Linked DNA regions of Homo sapiens. The protein of the gene in region 1 purifies or fractionates together with the protein of each later gene. This does not show direct contact. Each region holds a gene or a part of one and is shown on either strand. Other genes may lie near its edges.

Region 1 (3,500 bases):
GAGGGAGGAATTGTATCTCCATTTTGCAGATCAGGAAATAGAGGCATGGATTGTATCCTGCCCAGGGTCACCAAGCTGAGGTGAAACCTGGGGCTCCAGTCCACCTGCCAGCTTAGCCCTCCCCATCTGAGACAGAGCCCTGTTAGGGTTAGGCCTGGTCCTCTGGCTTCCAGGCTGAGGGGAGTTTGAATTCTGCCCTGGGAACCTGTGTTTGGGGCTTTCTTGTGGCCAGATTACCCAACTGCTGATAAGGTAACGCCTGCCCAGACCTGCCCACGGGACCAGAGATGCCTTGTTGATCTGGTGAGGGGAGTGGGGGTTGCCCCTCATGCCTTCCACCCAAACCGCCTCTCCCCAAACTGCTTTCTGTAGGCCTGCTTGCTATACCCTCTGGGCCACACCTCCTCTTGGTTGTCCTTGGGTCCTGAGGCCTGGCCTTCCCTTATTACTGGGCCCTGATAGGAGGAGGCTGGCTGTGTGGGCCACTCTGACCTCTGTACTCATCCAGCGGCCAGTTGCAGGACTAGGCTAGGCCATACCTGCTTTCTCTCTCTGTCCCCATCAGCCACCACAGGTTGGGCTCAGAGCAGCTGCCAGTGGGTCTTTGGGAAATGAGTGGCCAGGCGGGAGTAGGCATGGAGTAGAAGGGGAGGCTTTGCTCCACGGAGTGCCATAGTTGGTTCTGGAGCAGAGGAGTTCCTCCACCCCATCACCCCATCTCCTAGGCCTGAGTCTTTCCTGGTCCAAGATGAGTAGCGGGAGTTTCTGGTAGGAGGGTGAGCAGCCTGGGCCCCGTGGAACAACTCCTTGACCCTCTGCCCTGGTACCTTGTCACTGTCATTGTAGCTCCTGAATGAGAGGCCTGGGTGCTGGAGTGAGGGAAAGGGACCTCCCTCAGACTTCTGGGGCTTTATGTGGCCTCTCCCTCCCCAGGTCTGAGGAGAGCCTCTGGGTGTCGACCTGGCTTCCTGGTGAGTGCCCAGCCACCCAGCCCTGGCTTGTAGGAGGGGGACTCTTGCCATGGCTGGGCTGTTGCAGGAAATCCAGGGCCAAGGGACCTGCTCCTCTCATGGCACCACCGTATGTGTCGTCTCCTCCTTGGTCTCCCTCCCTCCAGACTCCCTGTCCCATCTACCTTCCATGTGGCACCATCTTTGTAAAGGTTGACTCTGACCATGTCCTTCCCCTCTTAAGCCTTCCATGGCTCCTCAGTGTCCTTAGAATAGAGGCCAAGCTTTTCAGCCTGGCATTTGAGCCTTTTCAAGTGAATTCCTCAGGCTCCCACACATTCCATGCCACCTCACCCTCCACAGTAGCCGTATAAGACCTCCCAGCCTTTTTCCAGCAGGTCACACTTTCATCCACCAAGTCTTTGCTCATGCCTCTCCTGCCTTCAGAGCCCTCCTCCCTCTTTGCCCACCTGACAAACTCCTAATCATCTACCAGTTTCCAGCTCAGATGACCCCTCCTCTGCAGAAGCACTCCCTGACCACCTCCCCCAGGCCAGGTAGGAGTTGCTGTGTGCTCCATAACCCCTGGGCTTGCCTTGGTTATGGTTTATTCACCCAAGTGGATTTGGTCCATGTCTGTGTCTTTTTCCTCAGCCTGACTGGGTACTCCTCAAGGGCCCAGCAGAGTGCAATCTGAGTCTGAGTTCACAAGGTCCATCTGAGGCCAGGTGCACCAGAGCATTGGCAAGTGTTTGCTGGGACTTTGTGGTTCCTGGGAATGTGATTTAAGATTTCATTACTCTGAATCCAGACCCCTGTGGCTCTGAGAATCTCAAAACCAAAGGCTATCAGGAGCAACGAGTAATAGAATTGAAGAAACACAGCCTTCACACCCGGAACCAGAGCCTCTTGGAATTAGACTGCGAGAACCAGGGAACTCAGAATCCTGGAGGTACCTGGAGGGGCCATCTCAGAATCAGAGGCTCATGTGGTTCCTGGTTGATGCTTTCATCCCCCTTTCCACCTTGGATTCTCCATCCACCTTCTTTCCTCCCAAGCTGGACCCTTCCTGCTCCTCCTCAAATCTTATCACAGTTCCCCTTCCAGGGACCTTGCCTGACTGCTCTGACCATGACCTCTGTCCCTCTGCTGGGGAACACCTGGGAGGGCCTCCCTACCAAGCAGTGTCATGGGCTCCTGAATTTCAGTGTCTCCCTGTTGTGACAGGCAGACACAGCCTCCACATTAGGACAGTTCATGATTTGCTAGCGCCAAGGTGCACCCACCTGCCCCCTTGTCTTATTCCTCATGAGCTGTCCCATGCAGCAGTGATTCTCCCCATCTGACCACTGAAGAACCCGAGGCTCTGAGAAGGGGGGCTGACTTCACCAAGACTGCACAGCACAGGTGGCTCCAAGTTAGAGCCTGAACTCACGGTTCTTGCCTCTTGAAGCTGGAGGCATTTGGCTGTGATAGGTTGGGGTGGTGTCCAGGACGTTGTGGTTCTGAGCCTGTTTAATTTAGTAGCATGTCTCTGTAGCCCTGTTCTGGGCTATGCTGGGTTCCAGGTGAGATGGGTGGTTTGGGGTCCTGCTCTATGTTGGGGGTGAGGTGGTCAAACCCACACTGACAATAATTGGAACACTAGACCTTGAGTAAGGCCCTTCCTCTTTAGAGGTCTTGGCTTTCTGATCTGTAAGCCTGGTTGATCTGAGACTTACCCACTCTGATGCTGCTCTGAGCTCAGCCTTGGTGAGTGGCCTCCACAGCCAGGATCCTAGGGGGGTCCCAAAGAGGGAGAGAACATCTGGGAGGGGGTAGAGAGCCCAAGGGCCTCCTGAAGGGGGTGCCTAACACCACAACAGCACCGGCTGATAGCATCTGAGGTTACCCCTTAGCCATTTCCTCAGACCGGCCCTGGTGCTCCCGGTGCAGAAGCATGTCAGGCAAGGCAGGGGGCCTGCTGGCTTTCAGCCCCTTGAAGGACATTGGGGAGGAGCCAGCGTGACTTCTAAGCTCCTCAGCCTGTGCACTCTAGCCTTGCCCTCTCCACTCCCCTCAAGCCACCAGGATGATGAGCAGTTCCTCAAACGTGTCATGTCATCTCTTGTTCATCCTCACTCTGCTCCTCTTCTCTCTCCAACCACCTGACTCCTCGTCTTCCAAAATGCAGGTCAGGCGCTCTCTCCTCCAGGAAGCCTTCCCTCATCACCCCTCCAATCCTGTTAGGGGCCTCCTTGGCTTCCTCCAGGCCTGATCACCCTGTGTTATCATCGCCTGTTTCTGAGTGTGCCTCCCCTGACGTTGACAGTGAATTCCTTGAGATCTGACCTACCTCAGAGTCCCCAGGTGCCCTGCCCAGCAGTGGGCATAGATGTGGCAACCTTTGTGAAGGGTGAGCGAGTGAAAGAGTATGGTGGCTATCTGGCTTCTGCTGGGGAATCCCTGGACTGCCTTCCCCCTGAGGATGGCCTTCAGTGTGGGAGACCTGATCTGTGGTTTTTCTGGTTGTGACCTTCCTGTATCCCCTTCCCATAATTCCTGCGAAGC
Region 2 (2,844 bases), on another chromosome or scaffold:
AGGAAGGCTTCCCTGTCCAGTGTCTCCTCTGCACATCTGCCTGGATTTGACTGGTTTGCCCTTTCCTTGGAAAGCAGATCTCTTGGGCACAAGACACATCCTAGAGCAGGGCATCGGCAAGCTTTTCCTTAAAGGGCCAGAGAGTCAATATTTTAGACTTTGCAAGCCTATACCTCCTCACCTCGGCTGAAAGCAGCCATGGACAATCTGTAAACAAATGGTTGTGGCTGTGTTCCAATAAAACTTTATTTATGGACACTGAAATTTGAATTTAATGTGTCACAAAATATTATTTTTTCCCAACCAATTAAAAATGTAAAAACCATTGATAGCTCATGGGCTGTAAAAAGCAGGTGGTAGGCTGCATTTGGCTCCTATTTTGCTGCCCTCTGTCTCGGAGTTTTTTGTTTTTGGACCCTTGTTTTCCTGGGTGCTTGGAGGAAGGGCACTGAAAGAATAGAAGGGTGCAGAAAGAGGAAGCAGGGGGCCTTGGGGAAACCATTGCTTATTTCAACATTTGGCCTTAGACAATCCTAAATATGGGTTTGGAGGGAGGCTCAGGGGTGTTGTCACTTCCCCTAACAACTCTGCCCCTCCCATCCCAAACCTGGAGGGTGTCTGAAACACGGGACTGAAAGCCCACTGCACAATGGACCTCTGTAGGCCCATCTTGCACCAACTGACATTGAAAGGCCTGTCTTTCAATGATGCATTTCTATTGAGCCCTGATCACTCCCAAATCCACATCTCTAACTTGAGCACACAGACTTACCCTGACCATCTGGCCCCCGAAAGACTTACTCGGCACACAGGCAGACGACCGAGAATCTGCAACAGCAGGCTTAGTTCCCGTGGGTGTTGAACCAGGCTTACTGGGATGGCCCCACTGAGGGCCTAGTGAGTGCCAGGCCCTGATCAAATGCTGTCTCCCCAGTCCTTCTAGCATCCTATGGGTTGGGTATTATGTAACCCACTTGCACACATCAAGAAATTACAGTTGGCAACAAGTTTCATGGTGCATGCAAAGCGCAGATTTGGAGACCCAGCATCAACAATCCAGAGGTTTTGATGGTGGGGTCAGCAGGGGTAGTGACCCTGCAGTAGGGCCAGGACTATTCAGAGGTCACACAGCAGCACCTAGTTGCATGTAAGCAGGTGAAAGTACTGATCTCACCATCTTGAGAGCTCCAGATAAGTCCCCCAGGACACTTGCCCTTTAGTGTCCCCGTTCCCCATGCTGCTTGCTCTGCAGCCTAGAACCCAGATTTAAACCAGGAAACAGAAAAGGGGAGGGGGTGAAGGTGCATTTTGGCTGTGGGTCTGAGCCATGTGTTGACTGGGCCTCTACCTACAATACAATCTCCATTTTTACCTCTACCTAACTCCTTTCTGCAGTTCTCAATTGGCTGAGAATCTGTATAGAGAAGGGATAATTAAGTGGCCTTTTTCTTTCTTTTTTCCCTTCAACTTTTATTGATTGATTGAGACAGAGTCTGTTGCCCAGGCTGGAGTACAGTGGCGTGATCTTGGCTCACTGCAACCTCCGCCTCCTGGGTTCAAGCAATTCTCCTGCCTTAGCCCCCAAGTAGCTGGGACTATAGGCATGTGCCACCACACCCAGATAATTTTGTTTTTGCCCAGCTAATTTTTGTATTTTTTGTAGAGACTGGGTTTCACCATGTTGGCCCGGCTGGTCTCAAACTCCTGACCTCAAGTGATCTACCCACCTCAGCCTTCCAAAGTGCTGGGATTACAGGTATGAGCCGCTGCACCCAGTGGGTTTATCACTCTTTTTTTTTTTCTCAGACTGAGTCTTGCTGTATTGCCCAGGCTTGTGTGCAGTGGCGTGATCTCAGCTCACTGCAACCTCCACCTCCCGGGTTCAAGCGATTCTCCTGCCTCGGCCTCCTGAGTAACTGGGATTACAGGCTCCTGCCACCATGGCTGGCTAATTTTTGTATTTTTAGTAGAGATGGGGTTTCACCATGTTGGCCAGGCTAGTCTTGAACTCCTGACCTCAAGTGATTCACCCGCCTCAGCCTTCCAATGCGCTGGGATTACAGGCATGAACCACTGTGCCCAGCTTATCACTTTTTTGTTGTTGTTGTTTTGTCTTGAGACAGAGTTTCGCTCTTGTTGCCCAGGCTGGAGTGCAGTGGCACCATCTCGGCTCACCGCGACCTCCGCTTCCCAGGTTTAAGAGATTCTCCTGCCTCAGCCTCCCAAGTAGCTGGGATTACAGGCATGCGCCACCACACCCGGCTAATTTTGTATTTTTAGTAGAGACGGGGTTTCTCCATGTTAGTCAGGCTGATCTCGAACTCCTGACCTCAAGTGATCTGCCCCCTCGGCTTCCCAAAGTGCTGGGATTACACCCATGAGCCACTGTACCTGGCCTCCCACCACTTTTTTTATGGTCTCCTTAAGGCAAGGACTGAAAGCCCAACAGGGAAGAAAAAAATTTCATCATCCATCAGCAAAATCAGTATCTGCAGCTCAAGTGACATTCCTGTTGAGTCCATAAAGAACCTATGGGGGTGACCAGAGATGCCACCAAGGAAGGCTAGGCTGCTGCACTAGCCCCACCTGACAGGACAGGTAGCCTCTATCCTGCACCATTTTTTTTTTTTGAGACAGAGTCTCGCTCTGTCGCCCAGGCTGGAGTGCAGTGGCGGGATCTCGGCTCACTGCAAGCTCCGTCTCCCGGGTTCATGCCATTCTCCTGCCTCAGCCTCCCGAGTAGCTGGGATTACAGGCACCCGCCACCACGCCCGGCTAAATTTTTTTTGAATTTTTAATAGAGACGGGGTTTCACCGTGTTAGCCATGATGGTCTCGATCTCCT
Region 3 (3,500 bases), on another chromosome or scaffold:
ATCCAGGCAGCAACATTCATACAACAAAATTCTGACAAAGAATAACTGTATTTTAAGGATTCGGGAAGGAACGTAACTTCAGATCCCAAAAGCCTTTTGCCCAATTACTTTTCATGCTCACATTGCTTGGGGACTTCAACCTTATGGAGCTTCTAAAAAATAGGTTTTCAAAATTAAAACCAGACTATAGAAAACAAATGTAATACAATTTCCAACTGTTAACATTCCTAAATTCTCACCGGGTTTCCTTTCAAACGCAGAACTGATTAAAATCAGAGGTGTATTCACCTCCTCGGTGGAGGAGGCCCCGTGACTTCCTGTTTCAGACATGCCATGGTCACCACAAAGAACCAGCAAATTGGGTAAAGGCGTCTCTCTCTCCTTTAAGGCAAAGGAAAAACATTTCAACTGCGTTCAGACTGAAGAGAGCACATCATCTTAAGAAGACAATTTTCGGTTTTAGCTTTACTTTATAGAGTTGTAGCTCTTTCTCAATGAATTAGATTTTTTTTTCCTATGAGCTCATAGCCAGATCACAGGGTCACAGTCAAATAATGCCATAAATGAAGTTCACAGAATTGTACACAGCTCATGGAGCACAGCAGGCTGCATTTCTGCCCTCTGATGGCAGACGGTTTGTATCTGGTTTCTGTCTTTGCCACTGCCAAGCTGTGAGACTCTGGACGCATTCTACTCTGTGCCTTGGTCGCCTCATCTGTCAAATGGAATCTTTCACAGGACTCTGGTGAGAACACAACACACAGCAAAAGGCAAGAGCTCTGAGCCATGTGGGGGCACCCACCAGGCTTCTCTGCCCCTGGGGTTGCAGCCACACATCCTTTGCTGCTCCGGGACAAGCCAGGCAGGCTGTGCCTGACCCTCGCTGCTGGTCCTCCTGGAACACTCGTGCACAGACCACATGGTCTGCCCCTCCCTCCCTTCAAGTCTCTGCTCACCCTGCACACGTCTTCAGGGAAGGCTTCTCTCAACACGCTGTTGAAAGCCCCTCCTCCTGCCCTCTGAGTTTCTGCAGCACCCATCACCTCCTCACATACTTATTTACTCATCTTTCTCATCTCTCCTGGCTAGAGCGTGAGCTTCACGAGGGATTATCGACTGTTTCACTGATGCACCCAAATGCATGGACAAAAAGTGACATAGAACAGAAACAGAGACACAGAACAGACAGAGTGACACAGAACAGAGACAGTGGCACAGAGCAGAGAGAGTGACACAGAACAGAGAGTGACACAGAAGAGAGAGTGACACAGAACAGAGAGTGACACAGAACAGAAAGTGACACAGAACAGAGTGGCACAGAACAGAGAGAGTGATACAGAACAGAGAGAGTGGCACAAAAGGTCTTCAGGAGGTATTAGTTGAATGAATGCATACACGGGTAGGAGTGAGAGCTGCTGTTCTGCAGGGCTGCTGGAAGACGGAGTCAGTGCAGTGGACACTGAGACAGTGCTGCCCGTGTGGCATGCGGCCCCTGGCTAGCAGACTGATGGTGGACATTCACACAGGCACCCTGAATAACTCAGGCGGTTGCATTTATTCTAGGGAACATCCACGTGAAACCACATCAGCAGACAGTGAGCGACGGCGAGCCTCACCTTCGACTGCAGTGAGGTGTGGATCTTCATCAGCACGCTGTCCATCTCGCTCAGCTTCTGCCCAATCAGGGGGCTGTTGGGCCCTGAAATGTGGCCAATGTGGTCCAGCCCCAGGTAGTGGAGGATTAATATGTCCCAATCTCCTCTTTTTAATACTTTATCCAAATGCCTCGTGACATTATTATCCACCTTTGAAGGGGAAACACACGTATAAACAACTCACCTAATTTCCCTGGATCTTCACTCCCCGGGGAAAACGCAACAGTCATCTTAAAATCTAGGGGTTTATTCAGGTTACAGGATTTGGGGGAGTTGAAACACAACAAAATCTATGTCATTAAAAATAAATAAATAGGCTGGACACAGCAGCTCATGCCTTTCATCTCAACACTTGAGGAGGCTGAAGCGGGAAGACTGCTTGAGGCCAAGAGTTCAGGACCCACCTGGGCAACATAGCAAGACCCCACGTCTATAATAAATAAATGAACATTAGCATTGGATTAAACTTTTGCTAATATTGTTTTTATGTTTCTGGGCTATGGATCGAATATATTCTACAGATAATTTAAATGAGCAAGGGTTCTTCTGACAAAAATATTTTTCTGTGGGATCACTGCTGGGCTTAATGGGCATAACTGAAGGTGAGCAAATGGGCAAGTTAAATAGATCCCAAGTTGTCATGAGGTAACTAAGGGCAAAGGGCAGTTAATTAAAGACAGGACAGTACCCAGCGTTAAAGTAACCAGCAGGATGATGAAGCTGAGGGCATCTACATGTGTCCTACAAGAAGGCTGTTCTGAAAAAGACACAGCACTCAATGATCACATTGATTTCTGAAATAAACACATCACGGAGGAGAGATGAGCAGTTGATCAGCCCCCAATAGAGCTGTCAGCCTGGTGAGCCCTGACCCCTCAGCTAGCTCATCTCCCTCCCACTAAAAAAATCTCCTATGAAGAGAAGTGTTTCTCAGTGATGCCATATATAGTCAGGAAAACTCAGTCATTACTGAAAAGTAACTGTTGAAAAGCGCCCCACTTTGGAACAGGATAGGACTACAGATGCTCCATAAGGCCCAGCCATCTAGGAGGTGAAGCTGGCTAAACCCCAGGCCAGGCAGGTGTGCTGGTGTGCTCCTACCTCAGCCCCAGGTCTGCTTTCTAACATGCAGGTCTAATTTTTGTTGGAAAAGCTCCAGGAAAACCCCCTCAGGACCAGGCCCCACCCAGTCGGCCACCTGCCCTCAGGGCACGATGAGGCTCCGCTTGCAGCAGAACCAACAGGCTGTGGAGTCCTACAGCTCTGCCATGTGCAGAAGCTACCAGCCTGTTCTGCCCACCTGGGGAGTCCCCACTCACCCATCATATCTCGGCTCAGACAGTCCCTTGGCTGTGTCACCCTTCCTGATCCTCTCTGCCCCTCAATGGCACTCAGCTGTTCTAAGCTTTGGGTTCCATAAAACTCTGCTCACACCTGCTTCAGGTTTGTATTTCTGGGTTGTTAACTGATTATGTGAGTGAATAATTTTTACACCTGTCCATAGTACTCCCTATAAATTAATAAAACCAAATATAAAATGGTATCATCTCTCACTAAGTAATGGGATGCCAGGCTCTATCTAGTATGATATTCTAGTATGATATATTTTCTTATTTTAAAAACTGACCTCTGTGTAATCTGACACGAAAAATGAGGTTGTTCCATCATATTCCACAAAATGCTTTGGGAATAATTTAACCCAGGTTTCATCTCCATAAAAGACTATTCTTTTTCCAGCTGCTTTTGCTTGTCTTATCACACTGTCTTCCAGCAGTGCAGGAGAATTGAGGTTCCTGATGACGTCGACAAAGCCAGGAAGGCTCCCCGTCATCAATGCCTGCAGTC
Region 4 (3,500 bases), on another chromosome or scaffold:
GTGTTTATACAAAGATTTCTGAATATCTACACCAGTGATTCTCAATTCTGGCTGTATATATACACAGATTCAAGGACTCACACACTGGGATTGTGATGTATATTTAAAACAGGGTATATTTTCAAAGCCTCATACATGATTCTAAGATAGCCAGGACTGAGAAAAATCAATATAAATTTTTATGCATGAAACAGAGACATGTCCCTTTTAAAAACCTAAAAATAAAAATAATTGAAGATCAAGCTTACCCTTTCCAAGAGACTCATTTCTTGGAATTCAGGACTAGTGTTGGATAGCCGCTGCAAAGTATGGGTCAAATCATATGTTGTTGAAAAGTAAAATCCATCCACATTCAAGACATGGTTTAGCATCGCTAGGAAGGTTTTATTATCTTGTAACTATAAACAAAGAAAAATCAGTATAGCTCATAATTGAAAAGGAATCTGCCAGCATGAGAAAAGAATACAAATTAAATCCTGTTAAGTCCAGTCTCATTAAAGACTACTGGCACAAGGACTGAGCCAGTGAGGGGGATGCTCGCCATTTCCCTGGGATGTAGGACAGTTCCTGACACACAGAAGATACTCAATAAACACTGTAGGGTACTATTAGGTAACTTGATTAGGTAGGACTCCTCCCCTTTGTATCCTTTACAAATTTTATTCTCAAAGGCAGAAGAGTAGTTTTAACAAAACATCACCTTCGGTTATGACCTACTGTGTGCCAGGTATTTTCCAAAGATTCCCTTTAATCTTCACAACAGCCCTGCTAAGTTAGCATAGCTATCTTCGACAAATAAAACACATAAATTTACGACGGGCCCAATAATGCAAACAGCAAATAACAAGATACTAACATCATCCACATTCTCAAGAAACGTTCCCTGGTTTGGGATGGACGAGAAGTAAAATGGAATTCTTTTTCTTTAAAACAAAGATTAAAAAGTCCAGTAAAAGCAATATTTATCTTTATTTTTGGGAAACCATTTTAACTAGCTTTCCCAATGAATACTAAGATTGACATTTGTTTTTATCCTTGTTTTAAAAAACAATTGTTAATGTTTGGTAACGTTTAATCATTACTAAATGATTAACTTGTTAATCTACATGTTACAAATCTACATATACAAAATTTTTTATTTGTGCTCAGACATGTTTTTAAAATTAGCTACACAGCTTGACAACAAAGAATAACAATCGAGAAGAAATTGTCTAAGTAAATATGACTGGTCTATTAAATAAATACAGCTGTTTTTATTTCTTTAAAATATGCCTAGTAGAGAATGAAGATATTGATATATATTTCTTGATATATATAATAAAAAAGAAATTCTAAAGTATAAAAAGCATATCCTGTAGTTTTACTCAGGTAGGCAGTGCTATAATTTTATTTTTTAAAATGTTTATCCTAAGTTATATGTTTTAGAATAATATATTTTCTTCTAGAAACATTCTTATAAATTGGGTGTAAAAATACAACTTAAAATTTTTAAATAGCAAACATGTAACTAAAATTACATTAAGAAAACAATCACTCTCAACAGGTATATATATCTCTAAACAATGTTGACTTTAAAAAGTAAGTTTCAAAGAATCAGAACAGGGCAATGCCATTCATGTAAGTTTCATACACACTCCGAGCAAAAACAGATCCTGTTTAAATATGAATACAGGCAGTCTTTACTTTGTAAAGTGGGAATGTAAAAATTACCATGTTATTTTCATCTTAATAATCTTAAGCTATCTTAACAGTCAATTGTAAAAACTATGACTGTTTCATGACCTTTAAAAATTTTTTTTGTCAAAACATTAAAAACTCTATTGTAAGTTATAGATATTAGTTATAGATATTAACTTATATAGTTACGTTGTAGATGTAACTTGTAAGTTATATATAGTAAATTATAAGCATAAATGAACAAATTGTAAAACTAATATTTAGCACACTATAATTTAAAACATTAGAAACACCGAGAATAAAAAATATTTTCTTTGTAAAAAAATTTATCAAGAGACTTGAACAGTGCTTGCCGCCTTCTTGTCATATAGATTAAGATACAGAATATTTCTTCTATCCCTGGTGAACTGTCATACACCTTCCTAAGTCTAAACCAACTTCTGACATTTTATCCTTTGCACTTTCAATGTTGGGAAATATCTCCAAGGTTTCCTTTAATGGGAAGTCTGTTGCAGGCATCACTTTCTCTGGGATACTGTCATCCCTTTCGTCACAGCCACTCCATCATTAATGTCGGTCAGTTCGCCTGCACCAGGACCTCTGGCTGCATACCTACTGTCCCTTGAATGGTGAATAGTGTCAGCATTCCCATGGTCAGCTACTTCTTCTATGCTCCATTTATGTTCAATTTCAATTTCTCTTCCAGAGTTGTTGCTTTTTGTTTTTTTGCACCTTCATCTTTGGTGGGTTAATTCTTCAGTTAATAAACTGGAGTAACTGAAATTTAAGCCATGCTGTTTGGGTACTGGTGTTAACTAAACTATGGTTACTGAAATCTGTGCATACAGGAATAGTGCAAAAGGAAAACTGCCTGAAAGAATATATACACATTTCATAAACACACACACACACTTACATTCACATGTGGTAAAAATAGAGAAAACCTCTCTGGGAAAGAAGGGAATGAGTTAAGAGGAGTAGAACTTCAAAGGTATTTATATTTTATTTCTTTACAAAGAGGATATGAAGTTAAATCTGGTGTTGAGTACCCGTGCATTTCTGTTTTCCCTTCTCTCCATATGAAATTGCATAATTTAAGAACTGAATCTTTAAAAAAAAAAAAACAAGAGCAACAAATGATTTAAAAAATATTTTTTATGCCTAGGTAGAAAAGTAGGTAGAGTGATCTTACTCTATAGGTTGTTAAAATAATTATAGCATTCTTTGTATTCCACAACACCCTCACCCTCCTCTCCCCAGCCCATGCTACTTCTTTGGGCGCTGCAATTAGTAACAATTTCCAGTTCTTACCTGAATATCAGTTAAGTGCAACATTGTCTTCTTATAAGAAAGGACATCAAAATCTGTTGCTTTCCAGACTACATGACTGAAAAATTCACCTACTTTTATCTTTTTGGTAATGACTATAAGATAATTACCTGCAAAAAGCAAGCCAAACACACATAATTATAAAAATAGTAACTCTAAAGGTAGAAATAGGAGTCCTTATTGTTTAACTTTAAAGGCTAGTAGAATGAGACTATATTGTGCCACTCAGATAAAAGGCCCATTTTTAAAGCAACCTTACAATTTATGAATAGAAAGGTCAGCATATTATTTAGAAAAATTCTTACTGAAAGGTCATGTTTTTCTCAAAAAAGATAAAAGCAAAAGCTTTTCATAACCAAAGGATTTGTCTTAGTAAATGGAAAGTAGAGACAGAAAATACTTCTCTTTCTCTCTTTCATCACCCCCAAGGGATACAGACCTCTGCTAATCATTTCCCAGCAGGCAGCTTAAAGCATCAGGACGTGAGATCTGAC
Region 5 (3,500 bases), about 73 Mb from region 1:
TGTAGGCCGTGTCCTGAGGTGTTTCCTCCAGCAGCGTCACATAGCCAAGCGTACAGGTGAGGATGAAGAGCACGGTTAAGGTGTGGGCTCGCCTGAAATCCAAAAACGCATAAGCATGGTGTCAGAGCTTGGGCAGCATTGCTAAATACTCACGTAACAGGCCCCAAATCCTCTCTACGTCAAGGAGAGGGCTTAAACTCCACTCTCCAACTCCCAACCAGCAACTGGCTGCGAGTCCCTAGCTGGGTAACTCCGAGATGACCCTGCGTCTGCTGGCCAGTCAGGGCTGAGACCAGCCCCCAGGAGGCTGGACAGGAAGAGCCCCGTGTTCCTGGGAAGCTGAAGGCCGCTGCTCAGAGGGCACATGCTGCCACTGGCGTCCAGGGCAGGTATCTGCTATTAAGAGCAACTGGACACGTAAAACACGCGCTTTTCACTGCGCAAGACAAGCCGAGACAACAACTCTTTGGGTTCATGAAATAACATCTGAGATTCAGTGCAGCAGCCCAAGACACCAAGAGCTGAGAAGGGGCCTGAGCAGAGGCCTGCAGAGTGACCGCTGCTAGCTGGAGTGAGCCACGAGCCGTGGGTCTGCCCGTCCTCTGGCCTGTCAGAGCCCAGACGTGGGAGGAGGAGGCAGGGCGCTCCCTTTGCAGTCTTGTCCTGTCCCATCGCTGGTGGAAAAGCCCACAACCAGCCTAGTATCAGAACTGGGGGCCACCAGACCCCAGCCACTGCCTGTGCCAGACACTCGCCTGAGACCCCCTCTGCATGACCATCTGCAAATGGAGGCAGAGACCTAGTTCCTACATCCATCGGAGTGTGTCCTCGGAGAGATGATGCACCCCTCTGTGCCTCAGTTTCCTCATGTCTAACCCAGGTCCTACATCCACCAGAGTGTGTCCTCACGTCTAACCCAGGTCCTACATCCACCGGAGTGTGTCCTCACGTCTAACCCAGGTCCGACATCCACCGGAGTGTGTCCTCACGTCTAACCCAGGTCCGACATCCACCGGAGTGTGTCCTCACGTCTAACCCAGGTCCGACATCCACCGGAGTGTGTCCTCACGTCTAACCCAGGTCCGACATCCACCGGAGTGTGTCCTCACGTCTAACCCAGGTCCGACATCCACCGGAGTGTGTCCTCACGTCTAACCCAGGTCCGACATCCACCGGAGTGTCCCCTCACGTCTAACCCAGGTCCTACATTCACCGGAGTGTGTCCTCACGTCTAACCCAGGTCCTACATCCACTGGAGTGTGTCCTTGGAGAGATGATGCACCCCTCCGTGCCTCAGTTTCCTCATATCTAAATGGGGAAGCTTCTGACTTCCAAGGACATCATGAAAATTAAGTGAACAATGCACTTAAAGCATGTTGCCCAGGACTTGCCTCCATGAAATGTAAACTATTTGTGCCCTAAAGAAATGAAAAGGCAAGTCACAAACTGGGAGAAAATATTCACAATACATATATCTGATAAAACTTTGTAGGCTGCACGCGTCTGTAGTCCCAACGCTTTGGGAGGCTGAGACAAGAGGATTGCTTGAGCCCAGGCGTTCAGGACCAGACTGGGTAACACAGTGAGACCCCATCTCTATAAAAAATTAGCCAGGCGTGGTGGCAGGCACCTGTAGTCCCAGCTACTCGGGAGGTGGCAGATTCGCTTAAGCCCAGGTTGAGGCTGCAGTGCGCTAGGATGATTGTGCCACTGCACTCTAGCCTGGGAGACAGAGCAAGATCTGTCTCAAAAAAAAAAAAAAAAAAAAAAATCAGGCCAGGCGCGGTGGCTCACGCCTATAATCCCAGCACTTTGGGAGGCCGAGGCGGGCGGATCACGAGGTCAGGAGATCGAGACCATCCTGGCTAACACGGTGAAACCCCATCTCTACTAAAAATACAAAAAATTAGCCGGGTGTGGTGGGTGGGCGCCTGTAGTCCCAGCTACTCGGGAGGCTGAGGCAGGAGAATGGCGTGAACCCGGGAGGCGGAGCCTGCAGTGAGCCGAGATCGCGCCACTGCACTCCAGCCTGGGCGACAGAGCGAGACTCAATCTCAAAAAAAAAAAAGAAAAAAAATACTTTTTATCCAGAATTTATAAAGAACTCATACAGCTCAATAAACAATTTAATGAAAAAATAGGCAAAAAATTGAACAGACACTTCACAAGGAAAACATACAAATGGCCAATAAGCACATGAACAAACGAGGAGCAGCACTGGTCACCGTGAAAGCAAATCCAAGCCAGGACACATCAGTACACATCCGCTGGAACGGCTGAAATTAAAAGCATCACAAATCCAAGCCACGACACAGCATCAGTGCACATCTGCTGGAACGGCTGAAATTAAGAACATCACAATGCAGAGTGCTGGTGAGGTCTCGGAGCAAGATGCTCACGCACTGCAGGTGGGACTGCAAAACGGCACAGAAAAGTGAGGCCTATGCTACGTCTGCTATCCAGCCAGCCACATACTCCCAAACGTGGGCCTGAGACAGATGAAAACACAGGTCCAGTCAAAGACACACTCCCAAACGTGGGCCTGAGACAGATGAAAACACAGGTCCAGTCAAAGACTTACATGCAGATGTTTCAGGTATAATAACCTAAAACGGGAAACAAACCAAAACTCTATCAGTGGAGGAAACACTGTGGTCCCTCCGACCAGCGGAGCATGGCTCAGCACTCAGAGGAATGTGCTGCTGGCAACGACCTCAACGTGGATAGATCTCAAAGACACGCCCCTTGGGAGGCCCAGGCAGGAGGACTGTTTTGGGCCAGGAGCTCAAGACCAGCCGGGGCAACATCATGAACATCGTGAGATCCCGTCTCAAAAGATAAAAAAAGAAAAAGAAAAACACGCTACAGACGCCAGGCACAAAAGAAACCTCCCATCTGCTGTCACCCACACACGACTCAAGGAAATGAGTTTGCATCCACGAAAAGCAGACTGGAGCGGAGACACGGGCCTTCCGGATGATGGAATGTTCTGGTGTGAGCGTGGTTGTGGCGGTGCATGGGCGTGTCACCTGCACGTGGGTGCTGCACTGAACGCACCCACACCTGGACTTAGCCGATTTCATGAAGAGCCAGGGTGGAGCTGCAGGACTGCAGGTGGAGGCTCCAGGCTGGAACTTTCTGTATTTTTTGTGCAGATGGGGTCTTGCCATGTGGGTCAGGTTGGATTTTTTTGTATTTTTTGTAGAGACGGGGTCTTGCCATGTTTTCCAGGCTGGTCTCAAACTCATGAACTCAAGGGATCTGCCCACCTTGGCCTCCCAAAGTGTTGGGATTACAGGCATGAAAGTGAATTCTTCTGCCATATTTTACAATACTAGGCATTTAAGACAACCAGAGGTAAATAAAAGTTTCATTGTGACTATCAACCACCTTTTTCTTTAGATACATTTGCATTTGAGTCCTAAGCCATGAGGAAACCGCAGGGAACCTCAGCCTTCCTGCTGAGCTCCACACCGTGGGGCCCTTCAGTACTGAGAGAC
Region 6 (3,500 bases), on another chromosome or scaffold:
TTTATATAAATGTTAAGTGAATGATTGACAATTTAGGAATTCTGTGTTAAATAGTTTTATTGATTTTTTTTTTTTTTTTTTTTGAGATGGAGTCTCGCTCTGTCGCCCAGGCTGGAATGCAGTGGTGTGACCTTGGCTCACTGCAACCTCTGCCTCCTGGGTTCAAGTGATTCTCTTGCCTCAGCCTCCAGAATAGCTGGGACTACAGGCACCCACCACCACGCCCAGCTAATTTTTTTTGTATTTTTAGTAGAGACAGGGTTTCACCATGTTGGTCAGGCTGGTCTCGAACTCCTGACCTCGTGATCTGCCCGTCTCGGCCTCCCAAAGTGCTGAGATTACAGGCGTGAGCCACCGTGCCTGGCCAGTTTTATTGATATTAGGTTTAGTGGAGTTTGCAGTTCAGAAAACTCAAAAAGTATCAGACTTAAAACCCTTTGGAGTGGCTATCATTTTACCAAGTTTCCCTTTCTGAATCAAGTATATATGTCATTACTGTTTTCAGTTGGCATATGAGAGCCTTGTGAGGTAATGCCTGAGAGAGCACTTGGAAACCCATGAAACATCTCATGATTGTAAGCTGCATTATGATAAGATATGGAAGCTTTTATGTAGTAGATAAACTCATCATATAAGCTCACTGTAGATTACCCACTTGGAACAGTTGAAGGCAATGTGTTATTCCAGAAAGCTTCAGTGTCTAAAAAACACACTATTGGCATACTTCTATTTAATAACGGGTGGTTTTTAAAATTCTTTCTTTTAGAAAGTGCTTTCAAAGCATTGGAGTGCTCTCAGAGATGTCATCCTACCATAAAATACTTTGAAAGGAAAGAAAAATGCTTTTTTGCTGGAAGTAAGATGGAATTGTAATAAATGCTTTGGCTTAGATAATTTTAATATGTCCCAGAGAAAAAGAGGACACACACAAACACTTGCACGAGATACACACGAGATCTTTTCCGGGACTGTTTTTTTTTTTTTTTCTTTTTTTGGACTGGATAATAAAAAATGTCCCAGTTAGCTGGGACTACAGGCTCATGCCACCTCTCCTGGCATAGGGGATTGTTGTTATTAAAAGTTTATCTTGTAATGTGTTCTCTCAATAATCCCAGCCCAGTGTGGATACTGTTTTTTTACAGGGTATTTATTGAATGCCAGGCTTATTGAAAAGTTAGAAGTTTGGGTATGTAAGTTTGGGTTGTATCAAGAAAAACAAGTAAGTAGCCAGAGCTTTTTAAAGTTAAAAATGAAAAAGTTCATTTCCATGAATCTAACTGTATTGTATTCCTTTTGTGTTTTGTATGTATGCATAGGATTTTTATATTACTTTGGGAACAGGATGTGTGTTTTTGTTGGCATCCATCATTTTTGTTTCCACACATGACAGGACTTCAGCTGAGATTGCTGCAATTGTAAGTACCTTGTATTTTTAACATTGCTTATTTTTGTTTCCTTAGAAATATGGAATTTGGAGAGTACTTGACAAGTTATACAGCATGTTAGAGTTGTTTTTCTTATAACTTACTTTTTAGTGTAATTTTGAATAGAAGACCTACAAGCAAATCAATATGATAGCCTTTAAAACCTAGAGCCTATAGAATTTGACTGAATTTTGTTTAAAAAAAATCCACTTACTCCACATACCGTGTGTTATTGCTAATGGAAGTGGTAAAATTGACTTTATTATTTTATATTTCTCCACTTTCAGTTCAATAAATGCACACCTACATGCCAGGTGTTTTCTAGGTATGGAGAATATATGGGAGAAATGATTCAGAGACTCAGTCTAGAAAAGGAGACGGAAAAGTAAAATTGTAATGGAGTTTGTTAAATGAACCAATAGCAGTTGTTCTGAGACTGGGTGCCGTGGCTCAGGCTTGTAATCCCAGCACTTTGGGAGGCCAAGGTGAGAGAATCACTTGAAGCCAGGAGTTCAAGACCAGCCTGGGCAAGCAACATAGTGAGACCTCATCTCTATAAGAAGAAAAAAAAAAATAATAGAAAAAAAAGTTGGTCTAGACAGCAGTTTTCAGTGGGTTATACATATCCTTAAAGTTTCATCAGACTTTTCAAGGAGTATGAGGCAGAGATAGTGTTGAGGAAATTAATTTCCAGCTTTTAAACCTCCATATGTAATCTTTTTTAAAACTTGTATGTCTGAGAATTTATCTCTGGTGAAGGAGTCTCACCGGCACTTTTCCACCTTCCCATTCACAGTCGCCACCTACCTTGCCCCTCAAAAAGAAAAAAAACTTGCTTGTCCTGAATCTTGCTGGATTAGTTCCTTCTTGCCCTGCTATATAGAAATACCTGACACTGGGTAACTTATAAAGAAAAGAGGTTTAATTGCCTCATGGTTCTGACAGCTCTATAGGAAGCATAGCAAGGGAGGCCTCAGGAAATTTACAGTCATGGCAGAAGGCGAGGCGGAAGCAGGCACATCTTACATGGCCAGAGCAGGAGGAATAGAGAGAGTGGGGAGGTGCTACACACTTTTAAACAAGCAGATCTTGCAGTAACTCACTATTACAAGAACAGCGCCAGAGGGGGAGTCTGCCCCATGATCCTGTCACTTCCAGCTAGGCTCCACCCCCAACATTGGGGATTATAATTTGACATGAGAATTGGGTGGGGACACAAACCCAAGCCATATCACTTATTATGGTGGATTACCCTGAATTGTAAAACAAAAAAACCCTTGAGTACAACAAAGAGACAGTTGAAAATAAAGATCCAATTTTTCTCTGAAATTCTTGGGGCCAGAATTTTTTTCTTTTGGATTCAGAATATTCTGGATTTTAGAAAGGTAGTGCTGTACATATGCTATATTACACAACACCACTTGAGGGCCTGCGACAGTACCCTGTAATCTAACATTGGTATATCTGAAGTAAAACATATGAATATTTATAGTAAAAGGGATAAGAAAAGACTAAGTAGTCTTACTCCATGTAAATAGGCTTACTTTGTGTCAATTTTGAGCCAAGTGAATCATGAAAACCTTGAGTTAATGTAGTTCTTTGGGTTTCGGAATTGTAAATTAAGGATCATGGCCTTGGACTGGTAGCAGTGCTGTGAACTTGAATGACTAGCAACTGGACAACAAATCATCTTGCAAGTCAGCTGGTTTCCAATTAATACTTTGTTTTTAACAAAATTGAAGTTAGGCCGGGCGTGGTGGGTGGTGGGTCAACGCCTGTAATCCCAGCACTTTGGGAGGCCAAGGCGGGCGGATCAGGAGGTCAGAAGTTTGAGACCAGCTTGGCCAATATAGTGAAAGCTTGTCTCTACTAAAAATACAAAACTTAGCCGGGCATGGTGGCAGGCGCCTGTAGTCCCAGCTACTCGAGAGGCTGAGGCAGGAAAATCGCTTGAACCGAGGAGGCGGAGGTTGCAGTGAGCCAAGATTGTGCCACTGCACTCCAGTGTAAGTGACAGAGTGAGACTCCATCTCAAAAACCAAAAACAAAATTGAAGTTGTAATTAATAGAGTTGTC
Region 7 (3,500 bases), on another chromosome or scaffold:
AGGCCACAAAGTCCACCATCAGAAACTTTCATCAGTTTTGCCCATTTTGCTACCTTACTTCACTAAACGTGGACAGCAGCTTTCATAAAACCAGCAGGCTCCTACCAGAATAGAAGTTCTAGTGGTCATCTCTAACAATTACCAGGTTACTCCCAAGATATCTTGAGCCTGTTGACGTTGGTCTTGCCACAACCCTGGCACTGTCTGCTCCTACCCAGTCCAAGTGCTCTTCAACTGTAGCCAGAATGCTCAATCTGCAAATGGTTACTGACCTGAGCTATGTGTACTAGGAGCTAGGGGAGCCAAAGAAAACACAGATCATGCCCCTGTCCTGGTTTGCCTGTAAGAGTATGTAACCTGGTGTTAAATACTCACAAAATAGATGGTGTTTTCAGAATTCTTATTCCACCAGGTTGATTGGGAAATACATCTTCCAAGAAAAAATATATGTGTCCAACTGCAATACCTAGAGTCAAGCAGAAATAAAGGATGAGGGAGAGAATTAAAATTTAGATTGCAGGTAGACCTACCAACACAAATTGCCTATATTTAGGATGAATGTCAACATAATTATTAAAAATTAATGAACTAATATTGTGGTATTTTACAATAGGTAATACGTGAAGGCCAAACAGAATAAACATGAAAAATAGTAACAAAATACTTTTACAGGTAAAATAATTTAAAAAATAGTGAGAAGAGCCTTACCCAAAAGGTCCACAATGATTGAGTTCCCCAACAACAAGGAAAATCCCATGAGCACCCAGGGCAGAAAGGGGGCCTGGAAGTTGAGAAGGCCGAAGAAGTTCATGCGGACATAGGGGTTCCTTCGGCTCCACACATAGACGAGCATTATTGTAAAGGCCTGGCCCAAGAAAACTAAGCTCACAAACAGACCAAAAAGCTAGCAGATGGCATTAAGGAAAATATCAACATTAAAAGTTTAATAGGAAAGACTGAGCAGGAGAACTAAAGATTGTGTTCTAACAGAAGTTTGAATTGGAAAAGTCAAGTTGTTACATCTTTAGAATAGAAGGAGAAACACCCAGAAAATAATTACCCAGAGCAATCAGGCAAAAATCTGCTTAGGCTAAATTATCGAGATTTACAGCTACTTCAAACAAATACTCTGCTTTCGTGAAGTTCTTGCCTCTTTGGAAAATGTGTTAATTCTTCAGTCAATAATTATATTAAAGCTTGCTCACGATTAGCACCTTTACAGAGATGAATAAAGCTAGCTGGAACAAAACCATCTTGTCAGACCGTACCATATCTAAGTCTATTGTATAGATGAAAATTCTTTTTCTGAAAAAATAATTTATTGGTTTTGGTAGCCACCAAGTAAATGTCTTACCAACTTAGTTTAAAAGTGAAGTACGCCAAGCAGTAATGATATAACTGAGTTGCTTAACAGTAACCCACCTGGGTTAAAAGTTCCTTTGACTTGCTCATCCTGTCCGACTGCTAGGTTTGGAAACTTGTCACAGAAAATGTGCTGTAAAATAAATGATAGTGCCCTGAAGCTAAGATCTAGAGAACTGTGGGAGACAGATGACAAGCTTTAGGAAGAGCCAGGGTGTTCTTCAACATTTTCCCGTGTTGTTTGTTGAAGGATACGGTCATTAAGAATCCACCAAAAAGGAACATAAATACAAAGTCTGCTGTCCGACCTCGGAAAGAGCCTTCTTCTAGCATTCGACAGTAACGATATCTTAAGTTCCAAGTTAAGAAAATATTAAGCACACGAATATGAACAAAGTAAAAATTTAATGTTATCTTGTAAGTACACTTGGATTCCATATTATTTGTAATTAGTCAAGTCTTCATTTGTATAAGAATGTTTGAGTGGTAATGTGATTACTTTTTTACCAAGCATTTGAGAAAAGGTCAAGACCAGCATCATTTTTTACAAACTGTCCCTGGCTGGGAACTAATCCAGATGACACACAGACATGCTTTCAGTCCCCTATTCTTTTTTTTTTTTCTTTTGAGACAGAGTCTCGCTCTGTCACCTAGGATGGAGTGCAATGGTGCCATATCGGCTCACTGCAAGCTCCGCCTCTCAGATTCAAGCGATTCTCCTGCCTCATTCTCCTGAGTAGCTGGGATTACAGTTGTGTGCCACCATGCCAGGCTATTTTTTGTATTTTTAGTAGAGAGCAGGTTTCACCATGTTGGCCAGGCTGGTCTCAAACTCCTGACCTCGTGATCCACTGCCTTGGCCTCCCCAAGTGCTGGGATTACAGGTGTGAGCCACCACACCCGGCCCTCCAGTCCCCTATTAAACCTTTAAAAATTTGTATTGTCTTTCCTGTGCTCAGCCACACCTTAATATGCACCATCTTTGCTTTCCCACATCCTAACTTGGAAGAAATCCGCAGCAAGAAGCCTTGTGTGCTCAACTACTTTTCCAGCCTGGCAGGTTGAGCACCTCAGTCAATAAAGATGAATTACGATGAGAAAAAACTTTAATGGAAACTTATCAGAATGATATCCTACATAGGATATAAAATGGATTCCTGCCATCCTCAGGAAGGAATGCAGCTGCAGATGAGTTGAACTGTAACTCCCTCTTAATACAGAGGGCAGGGGTGGAAGAGGAATGCCCTGCTCTGTGGCCCCAATTACCATTGGATCAGAGCTGGGGTTTTCCTTTCAACAAACCGGAACTTGACAAGCCCAGCAGACACAACCACTGTCTTTCAGCCAGTAGTTCCAGCAACCAGGACCCAAGGAGATCTCAGGTTCCCACTCCTCATGAACCCATTCCAAAACTTATGCCCAAATTCTGCTGAATTACCATTGCATTCAGGTTGTTTTACGGCTTCGAACCTGTTGGTTACTGTGGAGGTATGCCTCAGTTAAATCAATTCTCCCCTCCCTTGATCAGATTTGTAAGTAACAAAAGAGCAGAAGTGCTATCTTTTTATGGTTAAAACCTCCCATTTGAACAAAGTGACCTACAGACATTTTCAAAACATTACTACCTAAGCAACTACTTTATGTACCACTGACCCAGAAATCATAGCTAAGATGGTACCAAAAACAAGTAACAGGATGAAAAGTTTCAACTTAATTTTTTACTTCCTAAGAAAAAGTTTTGATGCTGACCCCATTTAATAAAGGATACAGAAAAATCATGTTAAATAAAAAATTGAATCCAACTGGCCCAAAAAATAAGAAGTTGGTGATTAATCTCCATATCTGTTAAAAAAAAATCAAGAGAAAGATGTATTAAGTAAAATAAATTACCAGGAAACAGTTCCATATTAATACAAAAGAAACATCCTATGACTGCGGTGGTTGAGAAGCCTTGGACAGAGTGATACTCTGTTCTGAAACAAAAACGGGGGCATATAATCTGATGTTAGATTTTTTTTGCTGCTTTTAGTTCAAAGTCTGAAAGACATCATTGGGACTGTGACATTTATAATAATAGGAAAGAAAATTTTAAATTGTGATCGTCGTATGGAGAAAGTTTGCTGGAAAGACTAGGTTAA

The links.
Region 2: the proteins of P2RY2 (region 1) and THADA purify together in Homo sapiens (affinity purification with mass spectrometry; one large-scale study listed by BioGRID and IntAct). This does not show direct contact.
Region 3: the proteins of P2RY2 (region 1) and PIGG purify together in Homo sapiens (affinity purification with mass spectrometry; one large-scale study listed by BioGRID and IntAct). This does not show direct contact.
Region 4: the proteins of P2RY2 (region 1) and SACM1L purify together in Homo sapiens (affinity purification with mass spectrometry; one large-scale study listed by BioGRID and IntAct). This does not show direct contact.
Region 5: the proteins of P2RY2 (region 1) and PTDSS2 purify together in Homo sapiens (affinity purification with mass spectrometry; one large-scale study listed by BioGRID and IntAct). This does not show direct contact.
Region 6: the proteins of P2RY2 (region 1) and CMTM6 purify together in Homo sapiens (affinity purification with mass spectrometry; one large-scale study listed by BioGRID and IntAct). This does not show direct contact.
Region 7: the proteins of P2RY2 (region 1) and DERL2 purify together in Homo sapiens (affinity purification with mass spectrometry; one large-scale study listed by BioGRID and IntAct). This does not show direct contact.

What each region holds. Positions count from the first base shown.
Region 1 is NC_000011.10:73,221,281-73,224,780, forward strand, and holds part of P2RY2 (P2Y purinoceptor 2), read left to right. Parts: intron 1-3,500. UniProt on the Homo sapiens protein: Receptor for ATP and UTP coupled to G-proteins that activate a phosphatidylinositol-calcium second messenger system. The affinity range is UTP = ATP > ATP-gamma-S >> 2-methylthio-ATP = ADP.
Region 2 is NC_000002.12:43,233,195-43,236,038, forward strand, and holds part of THADA (tRNA (32-2'-O)-methyltransferase regulator THADA), read right to left. Parts: intron 1-2,844. UniProt on the Homo sapiens protein: Together with methyltransferase FTSJ1, methylates the 2'-O-ribose of nucleotides at position 32 of the anticodon loop of substrate tRNAs.
Region 3 is NC_000004.12:505,710-509,209, reverse strand, and holds part of PIGG (GPI ethanolamine phosphate transferase 2, catalytic subunit), read right to left. Parts: intron 3,493-3,500; coding exon 3,283-3,492; intron 1,806-3,282; coding exon 1,617-1,805; intron 382-1,616; coding exon 240-381; intron 1-239.
Region 4 is NC_000003.12:45,706,396-45,709,895, reverse strand, and holds part of SACM1L (phosphatidylinositol-3-phosphatase SAC1), read right to left. Parts: intron 3,117-3,500; coding exon 2,989-3,116; intron 399-2,988; coding exon 249-398; intron 1-248.
Region 5 is NC_000011.10:456,779-460,278, reverse strand, and holds part of PTDSS2 (phosphatidylserine synthase 2), read right to left. Parts: intron 93-3,500; coding exon 1-92. UniProt on the Homo sapiens protein: Catalyzes a base-exchange reaction in which the polar head group of phosphatidylethanolamine (PE) or phosphatidylcholine (PC) is replaced by L-serine. Catalyzes the conversion of phosphatatidylethanolamine and does not act on phosphatidylcholine.
Region 6 is NC_000003.12:32,485,853-32,489,352, reverse strand, and holds part of CMTM6 (CKLF-like MARVEL transmembrane domain-containing protein 6), read left to right. Parts: intron 1-1,316; coding exon 1,317-1,415; intron 1,416-3,500. UniProt on the Homo sapiens protein: Master regulator of recycling and plasma membrane expression of PD-L1/CD274, an immune inhibitory ligand critical for immune tolerance to self and antitumor immunity.
Region 7 is NC_000017.11:5,479,679-5,483,178, forward strand, and holds part of DERL2 (derlin-2), read right to left. Parts: intron 3,205-3,500; coding exon 3,131-3,204; intron 1,712-3,130; coding exon 1,618-1,711; intron 1,465-1,617; coding exon of another isoform or gene 1,423-1,464; intron 905-1,422; coding exon 709-904; intron 467-708; coding exon 376-466; intron 1-375.